Linked DNA regions of Homo sapiens. The protein of the gene in region 2 interacts with the protein of the main gene of each other region in a biochemical or structural test. Each region holds a gene or a part of one and is shown on either strand. Other genes may lie near its edges.

Region 1 (7,026 bases), on a different chromosome or scaffold from region 2:
ACGTTTGCTGAAGGCTGGGAAGATGCCCAGTGGGGAGTGGAAGGAGAGTTTCCCCACCTGACAGCCAGCGCAGCCCGAGAGGAAGGGACCCCCGTGAGTGGAGATTTGCTGGGAAAGGCTGAGGAAAGTCCCACAGAGGAACTGAAGAAGCACCCTCCTCACAGAGGACAGGGCGTGCATCCCGACCCCCAGGCCTGCGCCCTTCCTCGGGCCATCCCTCTGAATGTCAGGAAGCCAGTCAAACCAGACAGAGGCAACTTCCCACCCAAAGAGAGGGGAGTGGTTCCCACCCAGAAAGGAGGGGCTGAGCTGAAGGACCGCGAGGCTTCAGCATTTCTTCACATGGAGGTGATCATTCCCCTGCCAGCCTCCCCTGGTCATTCTGAGGACCTGGCAGCTCTGGAGGAAGCTTCTCCAAGCCCAACCTCCCATGGGTCAGGGGAGCCTTCGGAGCTCAGGGAGCCCTTTCTTAGACATGTCCATCTTTCGAAAGCCAGCCCAGAGCCCAAGGACCAAGTAGGGTTTGTGGTGTCCCCTGCCACAGGAGGTGAGCGCAGGCCTCCTCCCATCACCAGCAGAAAGCCCAGAGTAGTCCCTGAAGAAGCTGAGGGGCGCATACCTCTGGGGTTTGGGTTCCCTTCAGGGAAGCGAAGGGAGATGACCTCTTTCCAGGCTGGGGACCAAGAGGGCTCCCTAGAAGATATTAGCAAGACCTCAGTGGCCAACAAAATTCGGATATTTGAGACCCACGGAGCTGAAACTCGCCGAATGAGTGAGGGTGAAGCAAGGTCCCTTCCAAATGACGTATCTTCAGAGGCACCCGTGGGACAAGCAGAGCAGCAGCGGAGTACGCTCTCAGACCTGGGCTTCGCCCAACTCCAGCCCCCAGGGGACTTTGCCAGCCCCAAAGCCACACATTCCACAGTGATACCTCTGGCTACCAGACACTTCAGGGAGGACACTTCTGCATCCTACCAGGAAGCACACACGGAACTAGAGCCCGTGTCCCCCAATTCAGGCTGTGAAACCACGCTGGCAGAAGCTACTGGAACTGGGGTAACTGGCCGCGTGAGCCCCCGCCCCCACCGCTGCTCCCCGCCCATGGGGGCTGGCCGCATGCTCTGTAGTTTTTAGAAGCATGTTTCAGTGGCCCCTCGTCATTTCTGCAATCAGAGGCTGCTTATCCATCCCTGTGAGTTTTTTCCCTAAACGGGCCTGGGTGTAGCTCAGGCTGAATGATGGGCTTCTCTGCTTGGCCCATGTTAGCTTGGCCACAAAGACCCTCAGCTTTTGGTGTGACCTGGTGCCCAGAGGGTCACACAACCCCCATGGAGAAGGTGGCGCCACCACCAGCAAATGACACACCTGCTTTGCCTTGCCGCTCATACCCGCTGGGTTCCTGCCTACCTTGCTTGGCTTGTCCAGCGATCTTTCTTCATCCTTTCCCATCCCTGGTTCTCCCGCCTTGGGAAAGTTGACAGTCCAGAGGTTTCCATCCTTCACTTCTGGTTCCCTCTCAGTCCCAGTGCCAAGTTTCTTTCTGCCTCCTTAAGACTAACTGTCTTCTCTAATCCAGAACAAATCCGGAGATGCGGTCAGGGAAGAGAAGCGCTCCACCAACTTAGCAGCCAACACCCCTGGGAAGGGGGGGCGCCTGAGATTTGCCAGCCCCTCGGGCCCTCAGGTCTCTGCAGCCCCTCTGTGCCCTGATGACCCAGTCACCTTCACCCGGCCAGGATGCATCGCCGCCTTAGGTTCCCACCTGCTGTGGCAGCACCTCTCGTGCTGCTCAACTCTGGCTTGTCTGGAATGTCTCCCTCACACCTCTCAACCTTCCAGAAACTGGCTAAATGGAGGCTCGCTTAGCAAGTGAATGTCTAAGCCCACTGAATCCCTAGAACCAGAAGCCAAGTTCTTTACAAATCTTTCATGGGTATTAGGTTGGTCTTTAAAAAGAATGTTATGAACCAGCCAAAAATGTGTGTGTGGTGTTTAATCCCTGACAGGCCAGTTGAGAGGTATGTATGTCGGACAAGAGTTGCTGGTTCCCCGAGGCACTGCCTTGGCCCGCTGTTGTCAATTACACTGATGGGACCAGAGCCTCTACTCCCTGACTTGCCTGTGGTCCACTCATGGAGCCCAGGGTGGAGCTGGCGTAGCACTCAGCTCCCAAGAAGCTCGTGCCCAAAAGGCCTGACCCTGAATTGCTCTTCTCTCTAGTCGATGCTGACCCCTCCCCCGGAGACTCAGTGGAATTGACAAACATGTTGGCTTCCTCTTTTGTTCCTCAAAGTTCTTGGCTCCAACCTCTCTGCCTTCCCTTCCTGGGTCTCCCTGAATCCCTGGATCTCCCTCCTTAGTTTCTGTTTCTCAACGCCCACCTGCACGGATGGGCCTGGGGTCCGGGCTTCCATCCCTGCCTTTCGTGCAATGCTGCTTCCAATAAGCTCCCAGATCCAATACCCTTGGATGGAGCCTCCTGTCCAGGAGTCACTGGCAGGACGTTTGCTTTGTACTTGCTTTTGCCATCAGTGTGAGACCCTCAGAAAGGGGCATCTCCACTCTTGAGTCGTTTTTGTTTTTTTTATGCTTGTTATGATTTCAAGGAACCTTTCCTGGGGTGTTTTTCATTTCCTGGCCTGCTCTTCCATTCAGGATGTCGACACAGCCCCGAGATTTCTCCTGACATTCACCATCTTGATTTCTCTTTCTCTCTCTCTCCCCACCCCACATCCCCATTCTTTTGATTTTATCTGGCCATAGAGAGCAGGGCTGAGGGAGGGCTCCGAGGAGAAAGTCAAACCACCACGTCCCCGGGCCCCAGAGAGTGACACAGGCGATGAGGACCAGGACCAGGAGAGGGACACGGTGTTCCTGAAGGACAACCACCTGGCCATTGAGCGCAAGTGCTCCAGCATCACGGTCAGCTCTACGTCTAGCCTGGAGGCTGAGGTGGACTTCACGGTCATTGGTGACTACCATGGCAGCGCCTTCGAAGACTTCTCCCGCAGCCTGCCTGAGCTCGACCGGGACAAAAGCGACTCGGACACTGAGGGCCTGCTGTTCTCCCGGGATCTCAACAAGGGGGCCCCCAGCCAGGATGATGAGTCTGGGGGCATTGAGGACAGCCCGGATCGAGGGGCCTGCTCCACCCCGGATATGCCCCAGTTTGAGGTACAGTGGAGCTTCCTCAAGAGCCAGGCCCGCTGGGCACCGCATGCTCAGAGGGCCCTGGGCCACCCGTGAGAAGACCGAGCACCCAGCCTGCAGCCTGAAGCTCTGTCTCGTGTTGCATGACTGCCCCTCCGCAGAACAGCATGGTTCTGTGCTCGCATGTTTGCCATCTCGGTTTACCCCTAACACGCGCTCCTTGGTATTTTAACCCTGTGACCCCATCGCTTGCTGAAGTCGAGCGATGACAGGTAGTCTGGTCTTTCTTGACCCCATGCCCCCCCACCTGTGTTGCATGGCACCTGCAGAGAGCATGCGTCTGTGGACTCTTGGGGGCTCCTGCAGCCTGGTCTGAAAGCTGAATGGTTTTTCCTGATCCGGGCCCAGGCTTGTCTCTCTGGGGTCTGGGCTTCCCGGGGAAGGGGAAGCAGTTTAAATCCATCTGGCCCTGGGGTCTCAGGGTGGTAATGGAAGCTCCTGGAAGAGAGGAAATGTGGTCATTGAGGAGGGACAGACTGTCTCTGGGCCTCTCTGTGGTCTCCTCTGTAGAGCTGTGAAGGGATTTCTCTAAGGCACGCCTGCCCATATCATTCCTTTGCCCCCTCATCTCTTCTAGACCCAACCTCCCTCCTACACTCTCCTTTCCCCAACATTCCTGGCATTGAAATATGAGCTTAGCCACTCTGGGCTCTCACTTCATGCTATATTCTCTGAGCAGGTTTTTTTTTCTCCCTTTCGGTGCCTTACAAACCTATCATGTTCCAGGACCAAGTTCAAATGTCAGTTTCCTAGCAGGGGTTTGCTTTCCTGACCACCCTGGGCAGAAATATCGCCCCCCTACCCCCTTGCCCTGTAATGCCTATGCTCCAGCACTATCCAAAGCGGTCAGGTCAGTGGCTGACAAGCCTGCTCTCCCACCAGGTGGCAGCTCCTCTAGGCCTGGCATATACTAGGCACTAATAGATGATTAACTGGATGAATGGCTGGGTTACAGGGTTGCAACCATCTATAAGAATCCCCTTCAGCCAGGCACAGTGGCTTGTGCCTGTAATCCCAGCTACTCAGGAGCTGAGGCAAGAAGGCAGGGGGATCACTTGAGCCCAGGAGTTCGAGGCTACAGTGAGCTTTGATCGTGCCACTGCACTCCAGCCCGGGCGACAGAGTGAGACCTTGTCTCTTAAAAACAAAACAAAACAAGAAAAAAAAAATCTCCAGGCACAGTGGTTCACACCTGTAATCCCAGCACTTTGGGAGGCTGAGGCAGGTGGATCACCTGAGGTCAGGAGTTCAAGACCACCCTGACCAACATGGTGAAACCTTGTCTCTACTAAAAATACAAAAATTAGCTGGGCGTGGTGGCACCCACCTGTAATCCCAACTACTCGGGAGGCAGGAGAATCACTTGAACTCAGGAGGCAGAGGTTGCAGTGAGCTGAGATCACGCCATTACACTCCAGCCTGGGCAACGGAACGAGATTCCATCTCAAAAAACAAAACAAAAACAAAAACAAAACTATACTCAGAGGTCATAGTCACAGCTTGCCATACCCAAATGGACCCCACATGCTCTCTACTTCACCCCAGTCCTCAACAAACCCTCTTCACTCATTGACATCTCCTGCCTGGATGCTGTAGGCCTCCAAGCATGTGTGGCTCTTGCTCTAAAGAAGAGTCCAGGCTGGGCACGGTGGCCCACACCTGTAATCCCAGCACTTTGGGAGGCTGAGGCAGGTGGATCACTTGAGGTCAGGGGTTCAAGAACAGCCTGGCCAACATGGTGAAACCCCGTCTCTACTAAAAATACAAAAGTTAGCCGGGTGTGGTGGCATGAGCCTGTAGTGCCAGCTACCTGGGAGGCTGAGGTAGGGGAATCGCTTGAACCTGGAAGGCAGAGGTTACAGTGAGCCGAGATCGCACCATCGCACTCCAGCCTGGGCGACAAAGGGAGAGTCTGTCTCAAGAAAAAAAATAGAAGAGTTCAGCTGAAGCGGCTGAGAGGTGGTGAGCTCACCAGGATTTGGTGACATTATGTACACAAGGAAAACACTTAGCCCAGGGCCTGTCATAGAGTATGTTAATGAAATGGTAGATGTTCTAATAGTAGCCTAAAAAACAGCATATAGCCACCATGAGGGTGTGTGGCACAGGGGCGCAGGGCAGGCCTGCCTGGTCCTGGTGGTGGTCCTGGCTCTCCTCGCGGGCTATCTGTCTATGATATCACACCACAACTCTTTTACCCTGTCCAGAGTACCCTTCCAGAGATGTGGCCAGCTGTGGGGATAGGAGATAGCCTGCAGACACCACACTGCAATTGTCTGTGAGCAAGGGTCATGCTAGGGTTTCAGTTACAGAGCATTCTCCCTCCTTTTCCTACAGCCCGTGAAAACAGAAACCATGACTGTCAGCAGTCTGGCCATTAGAAAGAAGATTGAGCCGGAGGCCGTACTGCAGACCAGAGTCTCCGCTATGGATAACACCCAGGTAACTTGTGCCTTCCAATGTACCCTAAGCATGGGTATTGGGCATTTGGTGGTAGGGTCCCCACTGCTGTGGCCAAACCCCTTGGCCAGCTCTTTTAATCTCAGCTTCCCTGGAACCCATATGTTAATCCTGATGCTCTCCTGTGCCTCAGTGTCCTCTCTGAGCTCTGGGGAGGGGCAACGGGTAAAGCAGGTTCCTGTCCTGGGCAGACCATACTTCTTAAAGCCTCCATTTAGCCATCCATAAAATGGGAATGACCCTGTCTACCCCTTCCTCCTGGGCATATTGGGAGGACTGTACTGACTAGTGGATTGGGACCTTGGTGTTCACATTGCTTGGAGGAGTTGGAGAGGTTTCTTGAGGTATCTCAGGGGCTGCTTGAGGAGAGAAGAGGGAGAGATCCCAATTCAGCTTCAGTCAGAATAGCTCACCTTGGGTCATTTTTTATGCATTAGAGTTCCACATCAGATCAGTAAAATGAACAAAGTGAAAGAAGAAAACCGAAGATCATGTGTCTTGACAAGAAGCAGCATCCTGACCACCTGGAGAAAGCCGTCAGGCATAGGCACAGGCCCACGACTTCCAGTCCATTCCCTGCACTCCTTCCATGCTTTTTAAACTTAGGAAGTTAAGATTGAGGATCTGATAGATGCCCTCCTGGTTTTTCCTGGCCAGAAGAGCTACAATGCTAGGAGCTTTTTTGCTCTGAGACTAACCTTTTCCTGAAGAACTGAAATAAGACCAGGCACAGTGGCTCACATCTGTAATCCCAGCACTTTGTGAGGCCAAGGCAGGCAGATCGCTTGAGCCCAGGGGTACAAGACCAGCCTGGGCAATATAGGGAGACCCCAGCTCTACAAAAAATACAAAAATTAGCTGGGCATGGTAGCACATGCCTGTAGTCCCAGCTGCTCGGGAGGCTGATGTAGGAGGATCACTAAAACCCAGGAGGTCGAAGCTGCAGTGAACTATGAGCTATGATTCCACCACTGCATTCCAGCTTGGGTGACAGGGAAAAAAAGAGAGAGAAAGAGAAAACTGAAATAAGACATAAACCAATACAACATGGGCAATTCTTTTGTTTCCAGATTTCTTTCTCCCACTTTTATAATGATGGTAGGAGTTTATGAGGCCGTCTACTACAGGTCAGGACTCTTGAGTTCTGATGAGCTGTGTGACCTTGGGCAAGCTGCTTCCCCCACTGACCTGTTTTGTTTTAGTAACACGTGTTTCTGTTGTGTTTTCATACAGAAAAGTATAAAGAAACTAAAATTGGCCCTAGATCCCACAGCCCAGTAACCCTTATTGACATAAAAACAAAACAACAAAAAAAGTTTATAGTTATACAATTCAAGCAGAACAAAATGGGATTTT
Region 2 (7,026 bases):
GGCAACAAGGGCAAAATTCCGTCTCAAAAAATAAATAAATTAATTAATTGATTAATTAAAGAAACGTGTCCAAGATCACACAGTTAATAAATAGCAGACCTGAATCTCACACTGAAGGCTCTCTGGCTTCCACCTACCTCAGAAGACCAAGAAGCAGAATAAGGGTCCTACATGGCCACTGCCCTCTCCCCACCAGCCCACACCTGAGGCTTCATCTTCCAAGGCCAACTTTGAGGTTGGAGAATCCCCAACCCTTTATGAAGACTGGCCGGGTGTACCAACAGTTGTTGCTCACAGTGCTGGATGAAGCACAGATGTTCCATGTCACAATGGTAAAGAGGGATGGGGAGTTAAAATTATAGAAAGAACATTGGCTTGGGCATAAAACTGGCTGCAAGAACATATTTTTCAGGTGCAGCCTTGGGCTACTTACTGAACCTCTCTGAGCTTTAATCTGCTCATCCGAAAAGAGAGACAGTAATAATGGCACCTGTCTCATATAACGTTGCCTTAATTATTAGGTGGGATAAGGGGTACAAAGCTCTTGGCTCATCGCCTGGCAGATATTAGTTTGCTTTTCTTTTCTTTTTCAAGATGGGGCACGTTTCAGGCCCATCTTGGGCCTTGGAGGAATCTCAGCATCTGCTATGAAGAAGGCAAAGCTAGAGGGACCTCCCAAGGAGAAATGGCAGGAACATTTCAGGATATAAAGCAGGGACAAGGACCCTTCTAAGTGCACATTCTCCATGTCACAATATCATTACCTGCCTTTTTCCCATCCCACCTCTGACAAGTGCTGGGATTCCCTGAAAAATCAAATCTCTGTCTTGTATTCAGCCGCCATCTGCCCTCCATCCCAGATTCAAAATTGGAGAACTGGCATTCTCAGCAAATAAGGCTTCTTCCTTTCATTGCATTCAAACAATTCTCCAATGCCTCCGCACCAGCAGGCCCTTTTCTGAGGGCTGCATCCCTCCTGGGAGCCTCTGCCCTGTTGCCCTGTAATGCTCTCCCCAGCCTCCCAGGCTGCATGTCTCTGTGTGACACTTGTGACATCCTATGAAAGGGATCATCTGTCTATCTAGACTGTTTGCTCCCTTGAGAGAAGACATGGTGTCTCATTCATCTTTGTAGCCCCAGTGTCTGGCGTATGATTGTTGGTAACTTTTTATTTTAAGCAAGCTGTAAGAAACTCAAAGATGAATTAGACCTTCTACCCTCAAGGACCTGACAGTATACGTATCTGAGACTGCATCCTTCCCACCCCCTGTGCAGCAGAAAGTGCAGGCACCACACGTGACATGGAGCCGTGTTTTATGCTCCTTACTGAGTTCTGATACTTGCTAACTGCTTTACCTTCCCCCTTCTCATCCACAGGGGACCCCACTGTCTGCTCCATCTCCAACCCTGATTTTGTCATCTACTCTTCAGTGGTGTCCTTCTACCTGCCCTTTGGAGTGACTGTCCTTGTCTATGCCAGAATCTATGTGGTGCTGAAACAAAGGAGACGGAAAAGGATCCTCACTCGACAGAACAGTCAGTGCAACAGTGTCAGGCCTGGCTTCCCCCAGCAAGTAAGTACCCTGGAGGGGGTAGAGGGAAGACAACACCCAATCTCCTGACTTCCCAGCCTGTGTCCAGCAGTGCATGATTTTGCCGTTTAGCTAAATTGGAGACACAAATCTGACACCGACTTTGGAATCTGCTAATTTTGGCTGCGCTTTGAAGGTAGGAAATCCAATCTCAAGAAAACATTGATAGTTGCCTCTAGAGCCTGCCTTACCTGGCAAAGTGATTGGAGAGCTCCTGGGCTTGTTCTGCTTCCCTTCAAAGTCTTTCATTTTCCCCAAATGGGCAGCAGCTCAGATGTCCCACAGGTTTTGAAGTTTAAGTGCAGCAGTTGTACCTTGCACTGCTGGTGGGTTCCCAGAACTGACTTTTTGTCTAAACCACTCATGCCAAGAATCACTGGGGTCCATCAAAGCCTTTTTTCCTTACTGGATCTGTCCGTGTGTCAAGGAACTGACAAGCTGGTGGGATAGGGTGCTGATAAAGCATTTTATTGGATCTTTCTAGGCTCTGAAAAGAAATGTCATTGCCTCTGCAATGATCTTCTAATTGCTAGGGCTTTAATTTCTCCTTACCCCATTGTCTGGCACTTAGTAGTTTTCCCACGATGTACTTGAAGCATGAATGGATATATACCGATCACTTGAAATCTACTAGGGAAGGGACAGTGGTAACATTAAACAGCATCTGCCTTCATGGAGCTTAGAATCTAGAAAAGCAAATAAAGCACCCCTCCACTCAATGTTAATGAAGATCCCAGAGCTGAATAGGATGTTTGCCAAATGTGAGGTGAAGACAATTAAGCACTCAATTATGAAGTGCTCTGGAGGTTATAGAAGAGAAAACCCAATATGCTCAGTGATATGGTTTGGCTGTGTCCCCACCCAAATCTCATCTTGAATTGTAGCTCCCACAATTCCCATGTGTCATGGGAGGGACCCAGTGGGAGGTAACTGAATGATGGGGGTGGGTCTTTCCCTTGCTGTTCTCATGATAGTGAATAAGTCTCACGAGATCTGATGGTTTTATGAGGGGGAGTTTCCCTGCACAAATTTTCTCTTGTCTGCTGCCATGTAAGACGTGCCTTTCACCTTCCACCATGATTGTGAGGCCTCCCCAGCCACATGGAACTGTGAATCCATTAAACTTCTTTTTCTTTATAAATTACCCAGTCTCAGGTATGTCTTTATTAGCAGCATGAAAACAGGCTAATACACTCAGGAAAGGGCTCCATAGACAGAGTAAGAATTGAGTTTGATCTTGAAGACAGATCCAATTTGGGTGTCTAGATTAATCTTTGATGACCTAGATAATCTTTTTTTTTTTTTTTTTTTTTGAGACAGAGTCTCGCTCTGTCACCCAGACTGGAGTGCAGTGACATGATCTCAGCTCACTGCAGCCTGTACCTCCTGGGTTCAAGCGATTCTCGTGCCTCTGCCTCCCGAATAGCTGGGATTACAGGTGCCCACCAACACATCTGGCTAATTTTTTTTTTTTTTTTTTTTTTGAGACGGAGTCTCGCTCTGTGGCCCAGGCGGGAGTGCAGTGGCGCAATCTCAGCTCACTGCAAGCTCCGCCTCCCGGGTTCACGCCATTCTCCTGCCTCAGCCTCCCGAGTAGCTGGGACTACAGGCGCCCACCATCACGCCCGGCTAATTTTTTTTTTTTTGTATTTTTAGTAGAGACGGGGTTTCACTGTGTTAGCCAGGATGGTCTCGATCTCCTGACCTCGTGATCCGCACGCTTCGGCCTCCCAAAGTGCTGGGATTACAAGCGTGAGCCACCGCGCCCGGCCACATCTGGCTAATTTTTGTATTTTTAGTAGAGACAGGGTTTTTCCTTGTTGGCTAGGCTGGTCTATAATGCCTGGCCTCAAATGATCTGCCCACCTCAACCTCTCCAAGTGCTGGGATTACAGGCATAAGTGCCCAGCCTGATGACCTACATTATCTCTGATGACCTGTTAAGGTCTTTGATGATGTCAAAAGTATGAATGAAGGTCAGACTCTTAAGTTGAAGTCCCAAGGCTTGAGTGAAACAAGACTATTAATCCCCATGAAAGAGGAGATCAAGACCCAAGGCTGAGGATATGAAAGTATTGCATTCAAAATATTATCATGTCCCATGGCTATCAATGACATGGCTAGACCCACAACTAACTGTTCCTTCTTCTACACCCCCTGCCCAGTCTTCTTGTCTGCACCTGCACCCCATTCAGCAGTTGTCAGTAAGGGCCTGATTTCCATCACATGCCACAGGAAAAATGGTAAGTGGGCCATGTCTGATCATAGAGAAAGAATAAGAGACCTTTTCCCACAATACTGGCTTATCTTGATTCTACTCTCACCCCAGAATGAAACCTTACCCTGATTCCCACACATATATCTATAAGACAAGATCTGAAATTCTTCCTAATTTAAGCTTCAGAATAGAATTCATCAGAAGATATTGAGAAAGCATATGACTATTGGACTTGACCTTAGTGACTGGAGCCAATGACTCTTGCACACGGTGTGACAATGCCATCCAAGGCCACCTGCATTAGAGGAAACAGACGTCAAGGGAACACACATGGACAGAGCAAAAACCAGGCAGAGAAAGGAAAATTTCAAGTGCCATATTTACCACTGAATGTGGGAAAAACCAAGACAACTTCATGGTCACCATTAGCCTTGTTCTTCCAATTCAAGCCAGGCCTGCCTCGCCCAGCTAGCAGAGTGCAGAGTGGAGTCTGGAGGTGTTAGATATGAGAACAGTATTCCTCTCTGAATTCCACATTAGAAATAAAACTTCAAAAATTTGTAATAATTAAGGTCTGAGCTTTGTTCAATCTCAGTATAGTTAATGACTTTCTACACAGGCCTGGTGTGGTAATTGGAGATAATCATTTTAAACGATAATAGCTATGCAGCTCAAAGTTGCCTATGGCTGATCCAAGGTCTAAGGAGGCTTCAAGGCCAAGAGGAGGAAAAATATTGAATACAAAAGAGAGATCAGACAGCCAAGAGACTGGCATTTCCAAGAGTGTGGAGAATTAGGTTCTGTCCTGCCATCTGGGAGTGGAGGGCTCTGCCAGCCAGACCCAGAGGAATCCAGTGTTTCCTCATGTCAGTCATGGAAGTAGTGATCAGGTTTTGCAGACAGAGCTGAAAAATACACTCACCAATATATAATCTTGGAAGAATCATTTTCCTACTATAGGACTGAATTTCCATATCTGTAAAATGGAAACAGGGTATACTAGATCAATGTTTTCAAATATGAGGTTTTTTTGTTTTTGTTTTTGTTTTTGAGACAGAGTCTCACTCTGTTCCCCAGGCTGGAGTGCAGTGGTGTGATCACAGCTCATGGCAGCCTTGAACTCTTGGGCTGCACCCAGCTAATATGAGATTTCTTAGGCAATCCCAAGAATTTGTTTCCCATCCCCTAGTTTTAGAAATAATGCGTTAGAAGTCAAATATTGTCACTTTAAGAAGATCAGTAGGTGCCAGTTTAATTGTAAACATAATCTTGGGGCCGCGTGTGGTGGCTCACGCCTGTAATCCCAGCAATTTGAGAGGCCAGGATGGGCAGATCACCAGGTCAGGAGTTCGAGACCAGCCTGACCAACATGGTGAAACCCCATCTCTACTTAAAAAAATACAAAAATTAGCCGGGCATGGTGGCATGCACCTATAATCCCAGCTACTCAGGAGGCTGAGGCACAAGAATCACTCTAACCCAGGAAGCAAAGGTTGCAGTGAGCAGAGATTTCACCACTACACTCCAGCCTGGGCGACAGAGGGAAACTCCATCTCAAAAACAAACAAACAACAACAAAAAAAAACAAACAAAAAAACACACCATAATCTCTGTTGTAAATAGGCATTCAGATAAAATGAAATATGCTTATTTTAATTATTAGAAAATGCCATCAAACTAAAAACCAAAAAATGTTAAATATGTATTCTCTTAACTTGACGTCATGTTAAGTGAAATAAGCCAGACATAGTAAGACAAATATCGGCCGGGCGCGGTGGCTCACGCCTGTAATCCCAGCACTTTGGGAGGCCGAGGCGGGTGGATCATGAGGTCAAGAGATCGAGACCATCCTGGCTAACAAGGTGAAACCCCGTCTCTACTAAAAATACAAAAAATTAGCCGGGCGCGGTGGCGGGCGCCTGTAGTCCCAGCTACTCGGGAGGCTGAGGCAGGAGAATGGCGCGAACCCGGGAAGCGGAGCTTGCAGTGAGCCGAGATTGCGCCACTGCAGTCCGCAGTCCGGCCCGGGCGACAGAGCGAGACTCCGTCTCAAAAAAAAAAAAAAAAAAAAAAAAAAAAGACAAATATCACATGTTCTCAATCACATATGGAAGCTAAAAAAGTGGTTATCGTGAAAATAGAGAGTAGGTTCATGGTTACCAGAGGCTAGGAAGGAGATGGGGGAGGGGGCGAGAAAGAGAGGTGGATTCAGGGGTACAAACATACAATTAAATAGAAGGAACAAGTTCTAGTGTCTAATAGCACAGTAGGGTGACTACGCTTAACAACAGTTTTTATATATTTCAGAATACCTAGAAGAAAAGATTTGAAATGCTCCCAACACAAAGAAATGATAATTGTTTGAAGTGATGACTAGCCTGATTTGATCATTACACATTGTATGCATGTATCAAAATATTGCATTTGCCCCACAAATATGTAAAATTATTATATATGAATTTTTAAAATCTTCAAGAAAAAAATGTATATTATTCTAGAATTCCTAAGAATACCTCTGTGGACCACCATTTAAAAAAAACTCTAGGCCAGATGCTGTGGCTCATGCTTGTAATCCCAGCACTTTGGGAGGCTGAGGTAGGTGGATCACTTGGGGTCAGGAGTTCGAGACCAGCCTGGCCAAAATAGTGAAACCCCATCACTATTAAAAATACAAAAATTAGCCAGGTGTGATGGTGGGCGCCTGTAATCCCAGCTACTCAGGAGTCTGAGGCAGGAAAATTGCTTGAACCTGGGAGGCAGAGGTTGCAATGAGCCGAGATCATGCCACTTCACTCCAGCCTGGTGACAGAGTGAGACTTTGTCTTAAAGAATAAATAAATAAATAAAAATTTTAAAAACTTAAATTGGCTGGGCATGTTGGCTCACACCTGTAATCCCAACACTTTTGGAGGCCAAGACAGGAGGATCACTTGAGCCCAGGAATTTGAGACCAGCCTGGCCAACATAGCAAGACCTCATTTCTACTAAAAATAATAAATAAATAAATAACACTAAATAGTCTTGAAGACCGCTTGCATTCATTCATTCATTCTGAGTATGTACAATGTGCCAGTTCTGTGTACCTAGAAGACTGCTTCCTTGAACTAAGGAAACCAAAGCGAGGGGTTTTTGTTGCTGACACTGAATAACTTACGTAGAAAACAAATTTACTGGAAAGCTGTCAGGTGGCTCACAGGCTCAATGAGAAGGCTGAAG
Region 3 (7,026 bases), on a different chromosome or scaffold from region 2:
CAGTGAGCTGCTGCTCAGAGGCCCAGTGTGGCAGGCAGTGGTGAGGTGGTGGGGAAGGAAGAAAGAAAATGCTCAGTGCAGTGCATACATGTGCATGTGCGTGCGTGTGTGGTGTTCTCTCCCCTAACCCCTACATCCACCGCCAACTCCACATTGAGGCTGGTAAAATGGCCTCAGGAGGATATTCGCAGCATCCTGACCGTTCTTATCAACCTGCAATGATTTTGCATGTGCATGTTGTGGTGTTGGCACTTATAATTGTGAGACTGGCTCAGATAGAAATCTCCTTCTCCACTTGTAGGCTGGTTATGATGGTGAGAGTATCGGAAATTGCCCGTTTTCTCAGCGTCTCTTTATGATTCTCTGGCTGAAAGGCGTTATATTTAATGTGACCACAGTGGACCTGAAAAGGTAAGACAAGGCGTCTGCCTTACTGAAATAACTGTACCTAGTTCTCTGCACACACACACACACACACACACACACACACACCTGAGGCCAACGGTGCTGCATGGGCACGTCCATCCTCAGTCGGAGTCTGAACTGAAGCCCACATGTGGGCCAAGCAGTCATGACAGGGTCGGCTGGGCTGGAGTCAGGAAGGAGGAGGAGTTGGGGGTGCCGTGAAGAACCTGCTTCTCCAGTTGCTGGTCAGCTGTGACTCTCCCAAGCCTGTCTGAGCACCATCCCTGGCTGATAACACTGGGGAGAGTTAACTTTTTCACCTCTGTTTGTTGATATGCCCCTTTGTGCTCCGTATTCACAAAGGGGCACCTCAACAAGCCCATCATTTGTTAATGAATGCCTTTACTTTCATCGCCAGCAAGACATTTTCATAAACCCACCATCTACTTTGCAGTTCTCAAGAGTTGCTTCTCTTAAACTGGTGAGGACGCGGCTAAGCCCTGGAAATGAGTCCAGATTCTCACGGTGGCCCATAAACACTGCTGTTTCCTCCCACCTAGGAAACCCGCAGACCTGCAGAACCTGGCTCCCGGAACAAACCCTCCTTTCATGACTTTTGATGGTGAAGTCAAGACGGATGTGAATAAGATCGAGGAGTTCTTAGAGGAGAAATTAGCTCCCCCGAGGTAGGCCTCAGAAAACCAGTGTTCATAACTTGATTGTCACTTTCCCCCACTAGTAGTCAGTTCTAAAGCTCTGGGCAGTGTGTGTGTGTGTGGTTTTCTGCAGCCCACGGTGCTCACTTCCTTAATCATAACCCTGGTGTAACCAGATTAGAGTTCGGGGACCTGGGTTTCATTGTGCTGCACCTGCAGCTTGGCAATCACAGTTTGATGGCAGGAAGTGGGAGGAGATGGGTCCAGGGTGGGTGGTTGGCTGTATCCTAGACACCCTGCTGGAAGCTATGGAGTATGTGTTAGGAAGAAGTATCATGGATTTTTGGACCTCGGGGGAGCTATTTCTACTCCATCCCCTTCGTTTTACTAGGGAAGCACCTGAGACCAGCAAGGCCAGGTGGGGTCCTGTGTCCCAGAACTGGCCACTGCCAGGAAACAGCAACAATCCAAACCTCTCCGTCCAGTGCCATTCTCCTAGATGTTGTTACTTCCCAACCTTTGAGAGGAAAAGGGTCAGGAAAACGTTGAAGGAAAGCTTTTCATTTTTATGCCCAGAGAAAGCTGTTTTTCTCCATTGTATAGTATTATCTTCACTAAAACATCACTTGTCTGTGATCCTCCAATTTTGAACTTTTCAAGGTATCCCAAGCTGGGGACCCAACATCCCGAATCTAATTCCGCAGGAAATGACGTGTTTGCCAAATTCTCAGCGTTTATAAAAAACACGAAGAAGGATGCAAATGAGAGTGAGTACCTCCCATCCTCCTGTTTTGTTTCAACACAGACTTGAGTCTTAGCATGGCGGCCCATACGCTCCTGGGGTATTCCCATCTATTTCCCAGTGGGTAGAGAAGTGAGTCTGGAGCTACAGAAAAAGTGCCTCCAACTTTGAATCTGCACGTGGGCTTCAAGAGATGAATGCTTCTTTTGAGGCTGGGAACTCAGAAAACAACATTTTTAGGGAAAATAGTCATCACCCAGGTGTTCCGGACACACCATGGGAATCATGTTCAATGATGTTTCTGCCAGTCCACGTCTCCCCACAGGCTTTCCATAAGTATTTTTGAATAAATAAATCACTTCTAGAAGGAGCAATATTGTGTAGACAGCAGTGTGATTTTCCAGGGAGGAGTGAGCCCTTTATTCAGATATTCTACATCCACCTGCTGCCTTCCCAGCACCCATTGCTTGCTGGCCACATCTCAGCGAGGAAGGGAAGCAAACTCCATCACAGCTGGTGAAAAGTGACATGCACTTGCAAACCTCTCTTTGTGATTTCTTGCCCTTCTGTTTTAGTTCATGAAAAGAACCTGCTGAAGGCCCTGAGGAAGCTGGATAATTACTTAAATAGCCCTCTGCCTGATGAAATAGATGCCTACAGCACCGAGGATGTCACTGTTTCTGGAAGGAAGTTTCTGGATGGGGACGAGCTGACGCTGGCTGACTGCAACCTCTTACCCAAGCTCCATATTATTAAGGTTCATCTTCCCTCCCGACACGTGTGCCGAGTACACGAACGGGGCTTTGTTTTATTTTGTTTTTACTTGTGTTTGGGCCAGACATTTAAACAGTCTGAAATGTGGAGACTTGGATTAAAAACACTAGTTCTGTTCGGGGCAGCCAAGCCCCAGCTTTCACACACACAGAAGATGGGCTTCGGGTGTTCTCAGAAAGTGCCTGGGAACATGGCCCCACCTTCTGCTTCTCTCTCAGCCTTACTCACACAGCCTAAAGACAGGTTATGTGAAAGCAGCCTGAGGAATTTCGTAGATTATACCTGGTGTTAGCAATTGAGAATTAGAGATGAGGCTCGTAGAATCTGGGGCTATTCAAATGTGAACGCAGTCTACTGTTGGTGATTGTAGGGCTCCACATGGCCCCTTCTAGGGATGACAGAGGAGTGTTCTATTAGCTTTTAACAGTGACCCTTGGCCAGGTGCAGTGGCTCATGCCTGTAATCCCAGTGATTTGGGAGGCTGAGGTGGGAGGATTGCTTGAGGCCAGGAGTTCAAGACCAGCCAGGGCAACATAGCGAGACCCCATCTATACAAAAAATAAAAAAAAAAAATTAGCTGGGCATGGTGGTGTGTGCCTGTAGTCCCAGCCACATGGGAGGCTGAAGCTGGAGGATCACTTGAGCCCAGGAACCTGAGGCTGCAGCAAGTTAAGGAGGTGGCACTGCACTCTGGCCTGGGTGACAGAGTGAGACCCCATCTCTAAAAACAATTAGGTTATTAATTATTTATTTATTTTAAAAAAACATTGACCCTCAACATCCAGGAAGCAGCTGGCAGCTTTTGGCTGAGTCTCTGCCATATTTGTTGCCCTGCCTTCCCATATAGTAGCTGAACATGATTTAAGAGCCATGAGTCATGTATTATTAGGGCTTAAAGACCTGCCAGACCCGTGGTTCTCCAATGTTAGTAGGCATACAAACTGTCTGGGGAGCTTTTTAGAAATGTGAGTCCCCGGGCCAGGCATGGCGGCTCACGCCTGTAATCCCAGCACTTTGGGAGGCCAAGGCGGGCAGGTCACGAAGTCAGGAGATCGAGACCATCCTGGCTAACATGGTGAAACTCCCTATCTACTAAAAATACAAAAAATTAGCCAGGTGTGGTGGCGGGCACCTGTACTCCCAGCTACCTGGGGGGCTGAGGCAGGAGAATCGCTTGAACCCGGGAGGCAGACATTGCAGTGAGCCAAGATCACACCACTGAACTCCAGCTTGGGTGACAGAGCAAGACTCCGTCTCAGAAAAAAAACAAAAAACAAACAAACAAAAACCCCAAAAAAACAAGAAATGTAAGTCCCCGACCCACTGCCTGCGCTAGTAAATCGGAGCTTCCAAGAGTGACCCCTGGAGCTCCAAGCGGATATCCCCACACTCGGACTCTGTAGCTGTTGCTGTCTCTCAGCACAGCAGCGCTCCCAGCCGCTCTATCACTTATAGAAGTTGAATGTGATTGCTGTGATGAGATTGCTATGTCCTTGGCCCTTAGCAGCTCCAGATACCTCAGGAAGAAGCCCATGCCTGGCTCTGGGGCATTTTTATGATTAAAATCCTGCCAGGGCCAGAGCCAGGTGGTTGGTATAAGTGTAGGGGAGATGGGAGAAACACCAGGAAAAATAAGTCATGGACTGTTTGTTCTAATAACACATTTAGTTAGCATTTAGAAATTACAAGGTAGCGGCCAGGCGCAGTGGCTCATGCCTGTAATCCCAGCACTTTGGGAGGCCAAGATGGGCAGATCACTTGAGGCCAGGAGTTTGAGACCAGCCTGGCCAACATGGAGAAACCCTATCTCTACAAAAAATAAAAAAATTAGCTAGGTGTGGTGGTGTGCGCCTGTAGTCCCATGCATTTGGGAGGCTGAGGCACGAGAATCATTTGAACCCAGGAGGCGGAGGTTGCAGTGAGCACTCACTCCAGCCTGGGCAACAGAGCAAGACTCTGTCAAATAAACAAACAAATAAATAAATAAATAAATAAATAAATAAATAAATAAATAAATTACATGTTAGCTTCACACAGTCTATGGTGCTGAGGCTCCTGTGGGCTCCCGGCCACCCCTGGTGACTCTGCTTCATTCTTTTGCCTTTGTCTTCCTGCATTTCTTCTTTCTATCCTCTTCCCCTCTCGGTCCTGGCCCTGTTGCTCCCTTCTTCTCCCTTCCTTTTTGTGCGTGAGGATACTGACTTGAAATGCAGGCCTTCAGGAGGTTGCTGATCCCTTGGGCAGATGTCTTTTCAATAGCTTTGCCAGTCCACCAATATCCAAAATTTAATGAAAGCATCTCCACCCCTCAAAACCTGCTAAATTTGGGAGCTGCCTTCTAACAGGATATTTATGTAGCTGTGTTTTGATTGAGTCCCTTTTGGTAAATGCTTTTTAGTCCCTACTGTGACCAGCGTAGCATTGCAGAAACACATGAAACTTGAAGAAGAGGGGGAGAAATATCCCAGCCACAGAGCATTCATGGCCCCTTGTTTAGCTCCCATGAGAAAAGACGATTTTAAATTTCAGTAGAAAGGGTAAGCTTTAGAGTGAGATTGCAGTTCATGGCTCCACTATAAGACCCAGAAGAAAAATCTGCAAGGCCATTTAGCACTCACAATACCCAACAGCTTAATGATCTTCCAGGATGGAGTACTTCTGAAAGGAAATGAGAATCAATCTAAGGGAATTATGGTAAAAGATGAGAGTGTGAAGGGATTTATAATTTATTCCCCTGCCAGAAACCCAGCAAAAACAATATCAAAATAGGGTATTAGCTTCATCTTTTTTGTAAAACTACAAAGGGATGACAGATCATCGACTTAAAGAGTAGGAAGCTTCTTTCAGTGGGAGGAGCCACAGAACCATTACATGTTTCTCCGTATCTTTAGCAAAGTTCAGATTTCTCAAAAGGTAAAGAACACAGTCCTGAAATACCCAACTCAAACTTCTTTGCTTGAGGCCTAGAGCATGAGATGGGCCAGGAGGGAATCACAGAACTTCCCTATAGAGACCCTTGTTGAGCTGAGATCTCTAGGGAGGCAGAATTGAAGGAGGAGCCACACAGAGACGCCATCTTTCTAGGCTGTGACCCAGCACCTAATCCAGAGGAACAGTCTGGAGGGGAGGTAAAGAGGGAGGAAAGGAGGGAAGTGGCATTTTGCATTGTGACTGCTGAGCAGAGAAAAGAATCTAGGCCCCAGCCAGTCAAGAGAGAGACTAGAATTGCCCAAACTTCGTTTCTAGCCACAGTGGCCTTCTGCCTAATCTGTGAGCCTCAGAGTGGAGGATGCCCTAACCCTAACCCTAACCCTAACCCTAACCCTAACCCTAACCGTAACTCTAACCCTAACCCCAGCCCTAACCCCAACTCTAATGTGTCTCTCTGGGGCAGAGCAGTGGTTGGCGACAAGGTGCTTGGGAGCAAATATTCCAGTTGGTTGGCCACCTGCCCTGTCTCACTCCCTTTGCCCTCCCCACTGCTTTTAAGCAAATGATAGGTCCAGTAGATCTGCCTCATTCAAAGAAGGCCAATACCAGAGAGAATGCCAGTGAGACCTTGGGGTAGACAGAGTTGATTGAAAAGAAGGGGGTGGGGGGAGGAATGATAAAGACAAGAAACAAAAACAGAAAAAGACAGATGGGAAATACATATATGATCAAGAACTGCTCCTCCAGCACATTAAAGAACGTTTCTTACAGAAATTTTTCTACAGCCTCAAAGAAATGAAAGAGAATATGGGCTTTTTGAGAAAAATCTCAAAGACAAGACACAAGATGTTCAAAAATATATTATCACAAAGGGGATGGAAATCAGGCTGGAAGAGCTCAAGAAGAAAAGTAAAGACAAATAAAAGAACTGCAGAAATAAAAGTCCTGTTAGAAGCAGTAAGACACAGACGAAGACATTGCTGAAATTGATTTCCTCTGACATTCGCACACATCTTATAGAGTTGGTTTTGGCATGTGGAATGTGTTTGTAGCCGTGCTGTCAGTGATTTGGAAGACAAGCCTGAGAAAAATCATCTAAAATCAAGTGGGGAAGAATAAAAAAGGTGATTAGAGAGATCCCAGATATACATGATCAGGAACAAGAGAACAGAAAAGGAAAAGGAAAGGAAAAAAAAATAAAAGAAAACGAGAGAATGTTCAATGGGGAAATTACTTTGAACTAAAGGATGACCTGAATCTTCAGTTTAAATGACATGCCATGTTAAACATTGCCCCAGAAAGATCAACACACTGAGACATACTTGATACATTACTGAGCTTTGAGAATAAAAAACAACCCTTTTTGGCACCTAGACAATAATAATACTGTAATACCAACAACAGTAATAATAATAAAAAGAATGAAATAGAGTAAAGCCAGTGAAACAGGGAAGAAATTCAGACTGGCCCCAGATGTCTTCATGAACCCATTAAAAATCAGAAAATTGTGGTTTAACA

Evidence for each region.
Region 1: the proteins of DRD3 (region 2) and EPB41L1 form a complex in vitro, tested with the Homo sapiens proteins (one study listed by BioGRID).
Region 3: the proteins of DRD3 (region 2) and CLIC6 form a complex in vitro, tested with the Homo sapiens proteins (one study listed by BioGRID).

What each region holds. Positions count from the first base shown.
Region 1 is NC_000020.11:36,206,725-36,213,750, forward strand, and holds part of EPB41L1 (band 4.1-like protein 1), read left to right. Parts: coding exon of another isoform or gene 1-1,056; intron 1,057-1,576; coding exon of another isoform or gene 1,577-1,684; intron 1,685-2,763; coding exon 2,764-3,174; intron 3,175-5,547; coding exon 5,548-5,652; intron 5,653-6,612; exon of another isoform or gene 6,613-6,652; intron 6,653-7,026. UniProt on the Homo sapiens protein: May function to confer stability and plasticity to neuronal membrane via multiple interactions, including the spectrin-actin-based cytoskeleton, integral membrane channels and membrane-associated guanylate kinases.
Region 2 is NC_000003.12:114,134,048-114,141,073, reverse strand, and holds part of DRD3 (D(3) dopamine receptor), read left to right. Parts: intron 1-1,377; coding exon 1,378-1,574; intron 1,575-7,026. UniProt on the Homo sapiens protein: Dopamine receptor whose activity is mediated by G proteins which inhibit adenylyl cyclase. Promotes cell proliferation.
Region 3 is NC_000021.9:34,706,979-34,714,004, forward strand, and holds part of CLIC6 (chloride intracellular channel protein 6), read left to right. Parts: intron 1-301; coding exon 302-411; intron 412-965; coding exon 966-1,091; intron 1,092-1,721; coding exon 1,722-1,828; intron 1,829-2,378; coding exon 2,379-2,560; intron 2,561-7,026. UniProt on the Homo sapiens protein: In the soluble state, catalyzes glutaredoxin-like thiol disulfide exchange reactions with reduced glutathione as electron donor. Can insert into membranes and form voltage-dependent chloride-selective channels.